Regions from separate parts of the Homo sapiens genome. Here region 2 is linked to region 1. The links come from fine-mapping of genetic effects on gene expression. Tissue or cell type: breast. Region 1 holds a variant in brackets; the other region holds the start of a gene. All regions are shown on one strand. Distances are from middle to middle.

Region 1 (7,718 bases):
TGATCCACCTGCCTCGGCCTCCCAAAATGCTGGGATTACAGGCATGCGAGTTGCTGGCTTTCTTTTGATTCTCTGAGTTACCACCTTCTCCAGCACAGGACAGCAGTTCTGGGGCCCTGGGAACTCCTGTATACGGATCTTCCACAGTATGGATCTGGATTCTTCTAAGAGATGGAGGGACAGAGGGAAACTCCCCTTTGCCTGCCACGTGGACTCTTCTCCCCTTACACTCACTGCAGTCCAAGATTTCCACCGTCCCCTCCCTCCCTCCCTTCCTTCCTTTTCTTTCTTTCATTTCTTTCTTGAGACGGAGTTTCACTCTTCTCTGGTGCCCAGGCTGGAGTGCAATGGTGTGATCTCAGGTCACTGCAACCTCTGCCTCCCAGGTTCAAGTGATTCTCCTGCCTCAGCCTCCCGAGTAGCTGGGATTACAGGTATGTGCCACCACGCCCGGCTAATTTTGTATTTTTAGTAGAGATGGGGTTTCTCCATGTTGGTCAGGCTGGTCTTGAATTCCTGATCTCAGGTGATCCACCCACCTCAGCCTCCCTAAGTGCTGGGATTATAGGCATGACCCACCACACCCAGCCCATGCTGTGGTTTCTCATAGCTCTTCCTCTAGTCCAGGCCCCCTCCTGAGCTCTGTGCTTACATTCCTGGCAGCTTCTTAACCACCTCTTCTTGGGGTCTCAAAGTTAACAATCTTAAGCTAAAGTCTCTACTTTACCATTCTAAACAATCCTCCTTCTGGGATTCCTATTAAGGGCTTTCTAAAGCACTGATCTGACTGTATACCTCCCCTCTTTAATACACACACACACACACACACACACACACACACACACACACACACGCAGAGATTTATATACATATATACATATCCAGAATGAAATAGACAAAAATATTAATAGTTATTCTTAGATGATAAAAATACAGGTAATTTTTATTTTCTTCTTCTTCTTCTTTTTTTTTTTTTTTTTTTGAGATGGAGTCTCACTCTCTTGCCCAGGCTGAAGTGCAGTGGCGGGATCTCGGCTCACTGCAACCTCTGCCTCCTGGGTTCAAGCACTTCTTCTGCTTCAGCCCCCTGAGTAGCTGGGATTACAGGCACGCACCACCAGGCCTGGATACTTTTTTGTATTTTTAGTAGAGATGGGGTTTGCTATATTGGCCAGGCTGGTCTCAAACTCCTGACCTCAGGTGATCCACCTGCCTAAGCCTGCCAAAGTGCTGGGATTACAGGCATGAGCCACCATGCCCAGCCTCTTTATTCTTTTTAATATTATCACAAGTTATTTATTTATTTATTTATTTATTTATTTATTTTTTGAGATGGAGTTTTGCCCTTGTTGCCCAGGCTGGAGTGCAATGGCACGATCTCAGCTCACTGCAACCTCCACCTCCCGGGTTCAAGTGATTCTCCTGCCTCAGCCTCCTGAGTAGCTGGGATTACAGGCACATGCCATCATGCCTGGCTAATTTTGCATTTTTAGTAGAGACAGAGTTTCTCCATGTTGGTCAGGCTGGTCTTGAACTCCTGACCTCAGGTGATCTGCCCTCCTCGGCCTCCCAAAGTGCTGGGATTATAGGCATGAGCCACCGTGCCCAGCCATTATCACAAGTTATTTATACTTCCTTTCTCTTGTTCTTGATCAGTCTCATTAGAGGTTTATCAATTTTATTACTCTTTTCAAAGAACTATCTTTTGTTTATCTGGATATTTTCTCTTGATTTATCTCCCTCTTCACTAATTCTCTCTCCAGCTGTGTCTCATCTACTATTCAACCTATCTACTGAGTTCTTAAGTTATCATATTTTTCAGTTCTAGAATTTCCATGTGGCCTTCTTATAGTTCCAAGATTCCTGCCAAATTTTTTTTATCTTGACTTATAATTCCTTGAATATTTTATTTTTTATTTTTTTGAGATGGGGGTCTCTCTGTGTCACCCAGGCTGGAATGCAGTGGCACAATCTTAGCTCACTGCAACCTCCACCTCCTGGGAGGCTCAAGCAATCCTCCCACCTCAGTCCCCCATGTAGCTGGGTCTACAGGTGCCACATCTGGCTAATTTTTGTACTTTTAAGTAGAAACAGGGTTTTACCATGTTGCCCAGGCTGGTTTCAAACTCCTGGGTTCAAGCAATCTGCCTGCCTCGGACTCCCAAAATGCTGGGATTACAAGCATGAGCCACCACACCCAGCCTAGAATATTTAATTTAATTAATTAATTTATTTATTTATTTTGAGACGGAGTCTCACCGTCACCCAGGCTGGAGTGCAGTGGCGCAATCTTGGCTAACTGCAACCTCTGCCTCCCGGGTTCAAGCGATTCTCCTGCCTCAGCCTCCAGAGTAGCTGGGATTACAGGTGTGTGCCACCATGCCCAGCTAATTTTTGTATTTTTAGTAGAGATGGAGTTTCACCATGTTTGCTAGGCTGGTCTCGAACTCCTGATCTCAAGTGATCCACCCACCTCGGCCTCCCAAAGTGCTGGGATTGTAGGCATGAGCCACCACACTCAAGCTATTTATTTTTTTAGAGATGGGTCTCGCTCTGTCACCCAGGTTGGAGTGCAGTGGCATGATCACGGTTCACTGCAGCCTTGAACTCCTGGGCTCAAGTGATCCTCCCACCTCAGCCTCCTGGGTAGCTGGGACTACAGGCACAAGCCACTTTGTTATCTGGGTCACCTAAGGGTCTGTTTCTTTTTTTTTTTTTTTGGAGACAGAGTCTTGCTGTGTCACACAGGCTGGAGTACAACAGTGTGATCTTGGCTCACTGCAACCTCCACCTCCTGGGTTCAAATGATTCGCTTGCCTCAGCCTCCCGAATAGCTGGGATTACAGGCCCACACCACTATGACCAGCTAAATTTTTTTTTGGATTTTTAGTAGAGATGGGGTTTCACCATGTTGGCCAGGCTGGTCTCAAACTCCTGACCTCAAGTGATCTGCCCGCCTCTGCCTCCCAAAGTGCTGGGATTAGAGGCATGAGCCACTGCGCCTGGCCTCTTTTGTCCATTTTTTTCTCATTTTCAATCACATCTTGTCCCATTCTATACCTGGTTATTTCTGATTGAGTGGGGGCATCCCACATGAATAACTGTAGAGGAAATTGGAGGCTCTGGGAGACGTCACCTTCCTCCAGAGAAGACGGATCTTTACTTCTGGCAGGCAGCTAGGCCAGAGGCACCCACCACCCCAGATTGCCGTAATCAGGGATCACAGTGCTTCACAGCTGGCTTCACTTCTCACGATGGTCAGTCTACTTCCAATTGCCCTTACTCCTAGTGGGTGGCCCCTCAGGGACTCAACCCAAAGCTTGAGGGTTTTTTTGTTTGTTTGTTTGTTTTTTGAGACAGAGTCTTGCTTGAGGGACTCTTACCAGGGTCTTTCAGCAGGCCTTGAACTTCAGCTTCTGCCCTCAGCCCTGTGTGCCTGTGAAAAGTTCTGCTCAGTTCCTCAGCTCCCGAGCAGACGCGTCGAGGAAAAGTGTCCCAAATGCCAGGCTCACCTCTCTAGGTTCCCTCTTCTCCCAGATCTTGACCTCACAATTCATGACTGCCTTGCAGGCTCTTCAGTACTATCAGATTGTTTGTTTGTTTATTTGTTGAGACAGGGTCTCCCTCTGTCGCCCAGGCTGGAATGCAGTGGTGTGATCTCGGCTCACTGCAGACTCCACCTCCTGGACTTAAATGATCCTCCTACCCCAGGCTCCCACGTAGCTGGGACCACAGATGCACACCCCACCACGCCTGGCTTCATTTTTTTTTTTTTGACTGAGTCTGCCTGAACTACCCTAAGAGTTGCTAAAAGTAAGATTTACTCCCACATCATCTACAATACAGACATATTATTTTGTTAAGCAGAGTAATTTCTTTTCCTTTTTTTTTTTTTTGAGACGGAGTCTGGCTCTGTTACCCAGGCCGGAGTGCAGTGGCGTAATCTCGGCTCACTGCAACCCCCACCTCCCCAGTTCAAGCGATTCTCTCACCTCTGCCTCCCGAGTAGCTGGGACTACGGGTACGCACCACCACACCTGGCTAATTTTTGTATTTTTAGTAGAGATGGGGTTTCACCATGTTGGCCAGGCTGGTCTCGAACTCCTGACCTCAAGTGATCCACCCACCTCGGCCTCCCAAAGTGCTGGGATTACAGGCGTGAGCCACCATGCCCGGCCCTGAGTAATTTATTTTCTAAAAAGGAAAATACGTATTAGAGGACCACAAGATAAAATGGAAATCCCTCACCACGGCAGTTAAAGCCCTGACCATCAAGTTCCCATGTCCCTTTCTGCTTCCTTCTGACGTTTCCCTTCCTGAACTCAGGAAGCTGTAACTGGCCACGTGGCCCTGAAGAAAGGGCTCCTCTCTGACCTAGAGCGAAGGCCTGCCCCGCTGCCTCCCGAGCTCTGGTGACGGGAGCTGGAAGGGTGTCCTTCCTGTCCCTACACCCTGTCCCAGACACTGGAGGAATTCAGTGTGTGCTGACAAGCATGGGGGAGGTCCTAACCCTGAGTGTTGTGGGGGTGAAGGGGACCAAAGAGCCCCAGGAGCAGGTAAC[A/G]CCTCCTCTGCTGCCTGCTTGCTGGGAACACCTCCACTCCCTGCTTCCACCCCAGCCCGGGCACAGGGTCCCGGTCACTCCGTCCTCAGGACTCCAACGGCCTCAGCACAAACTCCCACTTCCTCAGCACCAGTTCAGTGTCCTACACCGAGACGTCGCGGTGCCACACGGAAGCACGGACTGCTCTGTCCATAGGAACAGTGGCACGCACGCCACGTGGCCAGTGTGGGCCAGCTCATCAGCACTCACGGCCCGCAACCCAGCCATGCTCACCACCACCATGTTCGTCTCCACGAAGGTGGGATCAACTGAGCAGACGGACAACACCAGCTCCTGGAGTCCTGGGCCAGGTCCTGAGGTGAGCAGAGGTGACCCCAGGCCCTGACCCTGACCCCATTGCCAGCAAGGTCACCCGGGAGGCAGGGGGCAGTTCGGTCACGGTAGGAGAAGGAAGGGCCCTGTGTCCTGACTTGGCCTTTGCAGTCACACAGACTGGGCTCTGCTGCGTTTAGCTATGTGATCTCAGACAAACCTATTGACCTCTCTGGGCCTCTGTTTCCTCATTGTGAAGTAGGGACATCATGGGATTGTTGGAGGACTCAGTGAGCAGATGGAAGACCCAGGTTAGAGGCTCTGCCAGACTCTGCAGAGCATCACAATCCTGGCCGTCCACCGAGGGCTTCCCCAGGCTGGACTCTGCGCTGAGTAGGGTCTGCTGAAGCAGCTGGTGCCCTGGGTCCCGCCCTAGTGACTCAATGGCCACCCTGAGTCCCAGGATCCAGAAGCCTGCAGGCCTGCTGGGGGACCCCCGACGGCACAGCTCAGGCCAAGTCAGAGGAAGCACAGGGAAGCGAGGGTGGGGCGTCCTGTCCAGGCACCTTGGGTGAATCTCTGGGCGTTCCCATGGTCTTGCCACAGTGCCTGCTTTGTGTCAACCAGTCCCACCAGGGCCACCGCAGCCAGCATCCCCACCTGGTGCATGCTTCCACCCAGGGCTTTTTGGAGGCGCCAGGCTTCTTCAATGAAGTCCTTGGGCCTCCCAGCCAGGGACCCCACTGGGGCGCCCAGGCCCTGGGAGGTGGAGAGGAGAGACTCCTGCCAGCTCACATCCCTGTCCTTGGGCCAGGGTGGGGACAGATGCGTAGCCCCATCTGCAGAGGTGTTAAAGGGGAACCTGGGGCCAGCTGCCAGGGATGGAGCTCAGGAATCCAACCCTGCCTCCTGCTGGGGCGCCCCACCCCACCTGTCTGTGGGAGGCCAGCCCAGGGCTTTCCCACCTTGGAGAGGCAGAAAGACACAGAGTCACAGTGCTCCACAATGTAGGTGGGCGGGACATGCAGGGCCAGCACCACGTTCATCAGCTGGGCCCTGTCCAGGTGGACCCAGGCCCCATAGGTCTGGGCCAGGAGGTGCACCTGGGGGTGAGGTGCAGGCAGAGTCAGAGGGGCCAGGCCTGAGGGAGGCATAGAGGGAGGAGGGTCCTGGGCTTAGCTGCCTGAGGAATCAGGAGGGATCAGGAGACCTGGCTGGTGACTGGCTCTGGTGATCTGGGACCCAAGCAGTCAGGCTGTGCTGCCTAAGCCTCCATGCTGGGCTCTGGGAGGATCTGGGGGTGCACATTTAACCCAGCTTTGTCGCACACTGAGCATGGGCCAAACGACCGTGGGCCAAGGGTAAATGTGTGTCACCTCATTTAGGCTGCACAACAACTCGAGGGAGACGCCGCTGCTCCCATTTCACAGGCAAGGAACGCAAGGCTTGGAGAGTTAGGCTGCTGCCTAACTAGTGTCTGGTAAACAGCAGAGCTCAGACACTGCGGCCTCCTCACCTCGCACGTGGGTGGCAAGGACCAGGTGGAGGGCACTCACACGAGCTTGTTCCTGCAGCCTCATGGGGCACACGTTTCTGCGCCAGGGCAGCAGGTCCTGGTGCTGCTCTGGGACTCAGCTCTGGGGACTTGGGGGTGGGGGCATCTCTGCTGTTGGGCTGGTGCAGGGACTAGGGGCCCTGACCTGGGGTAATAATTCCCTTTGTGTCTCAGCCTAGGACCACACATGTGTCCTTCCTGTGACAGGTCTGGCCGCTGATGGGTGCCCATGGCATAAATCAGAGGGGACTGAACCCCAGGATGGGCCAGGGGCACAGGAAGCCAGGATCAGGCTGGTGGGGGGCACACAGTGGTGGGGCTGGGCCTACCTGGCGTAGGTAGTTGATGGGGAGGATCCGGACCCCCGAGATGCTGTGTGAGTTCTCCAGGCAAATGAGCTCGCAGACCTGGTGGTAGGGACTCTGGAGGCCCCGCGTGATCATCCTCTCCAGCTCAGCCAGTCCAGAGTGCAGTGGGGCAGCTCTGGGAGGGAGTGGGAGTGCACTCCAGCCCTCTGTGGGTCAGGAAGAGGATGAGGGCTGAGGGGTCCAGGGGCACCTCTTGGCGGAGTGGGGGGCTCCTCTGGAGTAAGGAGCCAGACCCTGAGTCCTGTGTCTGCTCCCCCGAGGCCTGGGCCTTGGAGCCTTTCCTCTGTTCTGTGCATCTAGACAGACGTCCCAGCTGGGGGGCACTGGGCCCCTCCCCTATTAACTCTTCAGATGCTGCTGTCTGGCTCCCGTCGGGAGCGCGGGAGTGCTCCGAGTGTCCACTAGAGGGCACCAGGCACCAAGCACCGCCCAGGTGTCTGCCCGGCAAGCCTGGGGCCAGCCCCAGCCGCTGCCGCCCCCACGTGGCAAATCTGGGGCTCTGCTCTCCTTCCTTCCTCCCCTGGAGAGGCTGCCATCCCAGCCAGCTTCTCCATGGCTGTCCCTTTCTCCCCTCCGCAGGTCCCAGCCTGGTGCCTGGGAAGGGGGTTTGCCCCTGAGCAGCCTGTGCTGGCTGGAGGATGCCCAGGGCCCCAGGTGAGCAATGCCTGCTCCTTACCTGAGCCACCCCACCCTGCTCATAGACGTGGAGGTGGCACTCCTGCCCAAGGAGGAGCTGGGAGCCCCGGCGCCAGCAGTGACACATCACTGAGACAGAAGGAGGGCAGGTCTTGGCATTGAGTCTGGAGGCATGTGGCCCTGCTCAGCGTGGCTAGGCTGAGCCCTAAGGCTACAGTCAACTCACAAATGCCTGAGGCCGGCAAGGAAACAGCACCTTCAAGACACCTCAGTGCTACGTGCCAGA
Region 2 (5,000 bases), 30 kb after region 1:
CACGGTATGTGTCTTTGTGTGACTGGCTGATTTCATTTAGTGTGATGTCTTCAAGGTGCATCCACGTGATAGCATAGGTCAGAATTTCCTTCCTTTTTAAGGCTGAATAATATTCCACCGTATGGATAGACCATAGTTTGTTTATCCATTCATGCATCCATGGATACTAGGGTTGCTTCTATCTTCTGGCTATTGCAAATGAATAATGCTGCTATGAACGTGGGTGAACATATCTCTGAGTCTCTGCTTTTAATTCTTTTGGGGATAGATACAGGAGTGGAAGTGCTGGGTTATACGCTAATTCTATGTTTAATTTTTGGAGCATCTCACCACACTGTTTTCCACAGCAATTGTACCATTTTCCATTCCCACCAAAATTGAGTGCACAGGGCCAAGCGCTGTGGCTCACACCTGTAATCCCAGCACTTTGGGAGGCCATGGCGGGTGGATCACTTGAGGTCAGGAGTTTGAGACCGGCCTGGCCAACATGGTGAAACCCCGTCTCTACTAAAAATATAAAAATTAGTCGGGCCATGGTGAAGCATGCCTGTAATCCCAGCTACTCAGGAGGCTGAGGCACGAGAATCGCTTGAATCCAGGAGGTGGAGGTTGTGGTGGGCCGAGATAGTGCCACTGCACTCCAGCCTGGATGACAGTGAGACTCCACCTCAAAAAAAAAAATTGAGTGCACAGGATTCCAATTTCTCCACATCTTCACCAACACTTGTTATTTTCTGTTGTTTTTTTTTTAAAAAAAATAGTAGCCGTCCTAATAGGTATTGAGTGGCGTCGTCTTGTGGTTTTAGTTTGCATTTCAGGCTCCATTTGACTTCGGCTGGTTTGAGGTGAGTTTCTGTTTCTTGTAACTGGCGCTAGTTCAGGTAGGCTCAGCAGCTGCAGAACTCAAAGAGATATGTTCACCCGCGTTCATAGCAGCATTATTCATTTGCAATAGCCAAAAGATAGAAGCAACCCTAGTGTCCATGGATACATGAATGGATAAACAAACTATGGTCTATCCATACTGTGGAATATTATTCAGCCTTAACAAAGGAAGGAAATTCTGACCTATGCTATCATGTGGATGAACCTTGGAGACATCACACTAAGTGAAATCAGCCAGTCACACAAAGACACATACCAGCTCAGCAGCTGCAGCACGGTAGCCAACAATAGCAGCTGTGGCTTGTGGAGAAGTTTATTTCTCCTTCTGTAACAGCCCAGGGCGGGTGCACCCGGTCTATGCAGCCCTACTCCCTTAGGGGACCCAGGCGGATGCTGCTTTGCTACCTTGACGTGGAGTTTCTGAGCTCGCTCTGCCGGTTGCCACCTGGGTCCCCAGGTGGGAGGGTGGAGCACCTGCCAGGATTGATGGGCTAAGGGCGGAACTTTCCCCTTGCATTCCATCAGGGGTATTTATCTTTTTTTTTTTTTTTTTTTTTTTGAGATGGAGTCTTGCTCTGTCACCCAGGCTGGAGTGCAGTGGTGCGATCTCGGCTCACTGCAACCTCCGCCTCCCAGGTTCAAGCAATTCTCCTGCCTCAGCCTCCTGAGTAGCTGGGATTACAGGTGCCACCATGCCCAGCTAATTTTGTTATTTTTAGTAGAGACGGGGTTTTGCCATGTTGGCCAGGCTGGTCTCAAACTCCTGACCTCAGGTGATCCGCCCACCTCGGCCTCCCAAAGTGCTGGGATTACAGGAATGAGCCACCGCACCCGGTCTCAGTTGATATTTCTAAGAATCTGCATAGAATAGACCAGCCGACCCTGGATCCTATCAGAGGGTGGAGGCTGGGAGGAGGAAGAGGATCAGGAAAAATAACTAATGCGTACTAGACTTAGTACCTGCGTGCTGAAATAATCTGTACAACAAACCCCAATGTCACGGGCTTACCTATATAACAAACCTGCACGTGGACCCCTGAACTTAAAAGGTTTTTTTAAAAAAAGAGGGTCGGGTACAGTGGCTCACACCTGTAATCCCAGCACTTTGGGAGGCCAAGGTGGGTGGATCATCTGAGGTCAGGAGTTCCAGACCAGTCTGGCCAACATGGTGGAACCCTGTCGTCTCTACTAAAAATACAAAAATTAGCCGGGCATGGTGGTGGGCGTAATCCCATCTACTCGGGAGACTGAGGCAGGAGAATTGCTTGAACCTGGGAGGCGGAGGTTGCAGTCAGCCGAGATCACACCACTGCACTCCAGCCTGGGCGACAGGGCAAGACTCTGTCTCCAAAAAAAAAAAAAAAGGGGAAGCCTGTTGCCCAAAAGGGCTGCTGTGGTACCTAAAAATGTGGGCTTTCTCCTTCTGGGAGGGGGTAGGAAGAAGTCGCCCCCACTCTCCAGGCCCACGGCTGCCCCGCCCCTGCTCACCAGCCGGCTGGCTGTGGCAAAACTAAAGCCTGCCCCGTGCCCTGAGCCCGGCATGTTGTTCAGCCTCTCTGAAATGGTCTCCTTGGATCATGGGCAGAGATGGTACGATGGGATCCCACCCGAGGGGTCCCGGCCGGTGCTCACGGGGCTGGGACCAGCTGCTCTTACTCTGTTTTTCTACCTTTCTCAGCCACTTGGAGGAAGAGAGAATTTTGTTACCTTTTACAGGTAAGGACGCTGAGGTTCACAGGATAAGTCACTTCCAGCCAGGTGTGTGTGACCTCAGATCCATACTCAGAGGGAGGTGGGCTGGGCAGAGCCTCCCACCTGCTCCCCTGGAGGCCCATGAGTCTGGGCACTGGGGCCCCAATTCCTATAAACCGGGGTTGATTACGGAGGACTCCCCTCACCTGCAACCCCGCCTCCCACCACAGAGCCCAGGCAGCAGGGAAGCCTGGAGACAGGCGCAGAGCCTCTGGGCCTGGGTGCCTACCCCTGCCCACCCCCAGGGCCTCAGGCCACAGGAGACCACCTAAAGCAGGAGCCGGGAGTAGGGCCCAGGCTGGGCTGGCACAGCTGGGCCTGTGAGGGGTGGAGGGGCCGCTGGGGAAGGGACTTACCAGCAGCAGCTCTGCTGGGACCTGGGAGGCTCTCCTCATTTCCAGTAACAAGCGGGGGTGGGGGCAGTGGGAGGGAGGAGGCGGCTTTCCCCAGGTGCCAGCTGTGCTTGAAGACAGCCTGTCCCCTCTGCTGTCTCCTGTTCTCAGCTCCTTAATCCCCTCCCCGACCTCGTAGTTGACTCCTGGGCTGACTCCTCCCCTGGAAGGGAAAGAAGAGCCGGGCTCACCCACACCCAACAGGTGCAGCAGCTGCTTGAGGTCACAGTTGCTGAGAAGGGAAGCTGAGGCCAGTGGCAGCTCCAGCCAGGGTTGGTGCAGCCTGCTGAGGGGTCGAGGTCACCCAATCACCCACCCAGCTCCACCTGCCCCCACCCCTCCCACCCAGCCTGGCCACCAGCCCAGACACCTTCCTCACATGGCCTGAAGACCCCTGCTGACCTGTGGCACCATGTGGCCCAGCAGGGTGGCCAGGCTGGCCGGGGTCATGGGGTGGGGGACGCTGCTCCCCACCTGCCCTGGGGTGGTCGGTGCTGTTGGGGAGGCCACTCTCTAGGGGCATCTGCCAGGTAGGCAGACCAGAAACTTACCCCGAGTTCTGTGACCCGCTCCGGGGAGCGGGGCATCTCATGTCCTCTCAGCCACGTCTGAAAGCTGGGACATGGCAGAGTGGGCAGGGCTGCCCTCTGAGCTGACCCCCTTCCCCTCCTCCCCATCTTGTCTCTCCTCAGATCTAGGGCTCACTCTGAGGCGTGGGTGACACTTGCCCCCCAACCCCAGCCTCTTCAGTGCAGGGAGGCAGGGCCTGAACTTCGGAGGGCCTTGGGGCAGGTTCCTGGGGCTTGCAGTGAGGCCTCCCCTTTCCCAGGGAGAGGAAGGGAGAAGCCGCGTCTGGCGAGGGAAGCCTGTACCCTCACCCTCACTGTGTCCAGATCTGCACCCCTAACCTGGCCTGGGGAGACTGGCACCAGGTGGAGCTGGTCCCCAAGGAGCCCCAAACCCCAGAACATCTGCTGCAGGGGTCAGCTCTCAGGGGGCCCCAGGGCCAGTCCTCTCTGCACCCCACCTTCCCTGCTCAATGTGGCTTGTAGGAGGTTATGCAAAGCATTATGCAAAGCACATGCAAATGAGACCCAACCACAACTGGTCACTCTCTCCAGGCAAGACCACTGAAGCCCTCTGGTCATCAGCAGGAATGCAGGGGCGCCTATGGCAGGCCGGACTCCAGGTCAGGCCTTGGGGCAGTGAGGAAGAAGGTGCATGCCAGGTAAGCTATAGTCAAAAGGGAGGGACACACACCACCAGGCGAATGAATGAAGCAAATCAATGGCACTCCTCCCTGCCCCAGAATTCAAAATGACAGACCGGTGCAGACAGATGCATGTGTGTTCTGAGAGGTGGTTGTGTACAAGCAAGCTCACTCCTTCAGTCTCCCATTCATTCACTTATTCTGCAAACTCGGTGTCTATTATGAGCCTGGGCTGTTCCAGGGGCTGGGGATATCCCAGCAGATGAAAATGCCTGCTTTGCAGGGCTCCAGTAGGGAGAGAAAGATACAGGTGACAAGTCAGGATGAGCAAGGAGGACACACCGGTGTATGTTCCAGAAACCATAAGGAGGCTGGAGCCAGGCACAGGGAGCCCTGGGCCTTGGGAAGAGTATGGTCTGTGCAGGGGCCATGTAGTGGGAGGGGGCCCTGCAACATCAACCCAGGTGCCCTGGGGAGGTTGTGGTGGAAACAGGCAGAGCACGGAGGGAACCAAGTTCCCCGGGCAGGAGATGCCAGGGGCTGCGGCCAGGGGTGGCAGTGGAAGGGCTGAGAAGTGGTCGGATTCTGGGTTAGGAAGAGAAAGCTGCCCTTTGCCCTCTGAAGCTTCGCCGAAAAATCAGCGGACAAAAGGCAGATTCATAGGAGAAAAGGCTCACAAAATTTACTGTAACTGCATAGCACAGGACTCCCCGGACGTGATTACCCAGTAATCCAGAGGGGTCCAGAACCTGCCATGCCCT

The links. PIP is the estimated chance that this variant, and not a neighbour inherited with it, causes the effect.
Region 2: LINC01993 starts here. The variant in region 1 is fine-mapped to the expression of LINC01993 in breast (GTEx, PIP 0.97).

Annotation. Positions count from the first base shown.
Region 1 is chr17:78,243,847-78,251,564 of GRCh38, forward strand. It overlaps LOC105371910 (a long non-coding RNA gene), which reads left to right and starts at 4,470. Exons shown (of 2, transcript NR_164160.1): 1 at 4,470-4,919; 2 at 7,376-7,718. It also overlaps the pseudogene THA1P. RefSeq lists a silencer at 2,629-2,829 and enhancers at 6,217-6,862, 7,044-7,093. The variant A/G (reference allele first, on the strand shown) is at 4,562.
Region 2 is chr17:78,275,451-78,280,450 of GRCh38, forward strand. It overlaps LINC01993 (long intergenic non-protein coding RNA 1993), which reads right to left and starts at 3,042. Exons shown (of 7, transcript NR_073178.1): 1 at 2,994-3,042. RefSeq lists enhancers at 797-1,066, 1,297-1,346, 1,908-2,741, 2,742-3,575.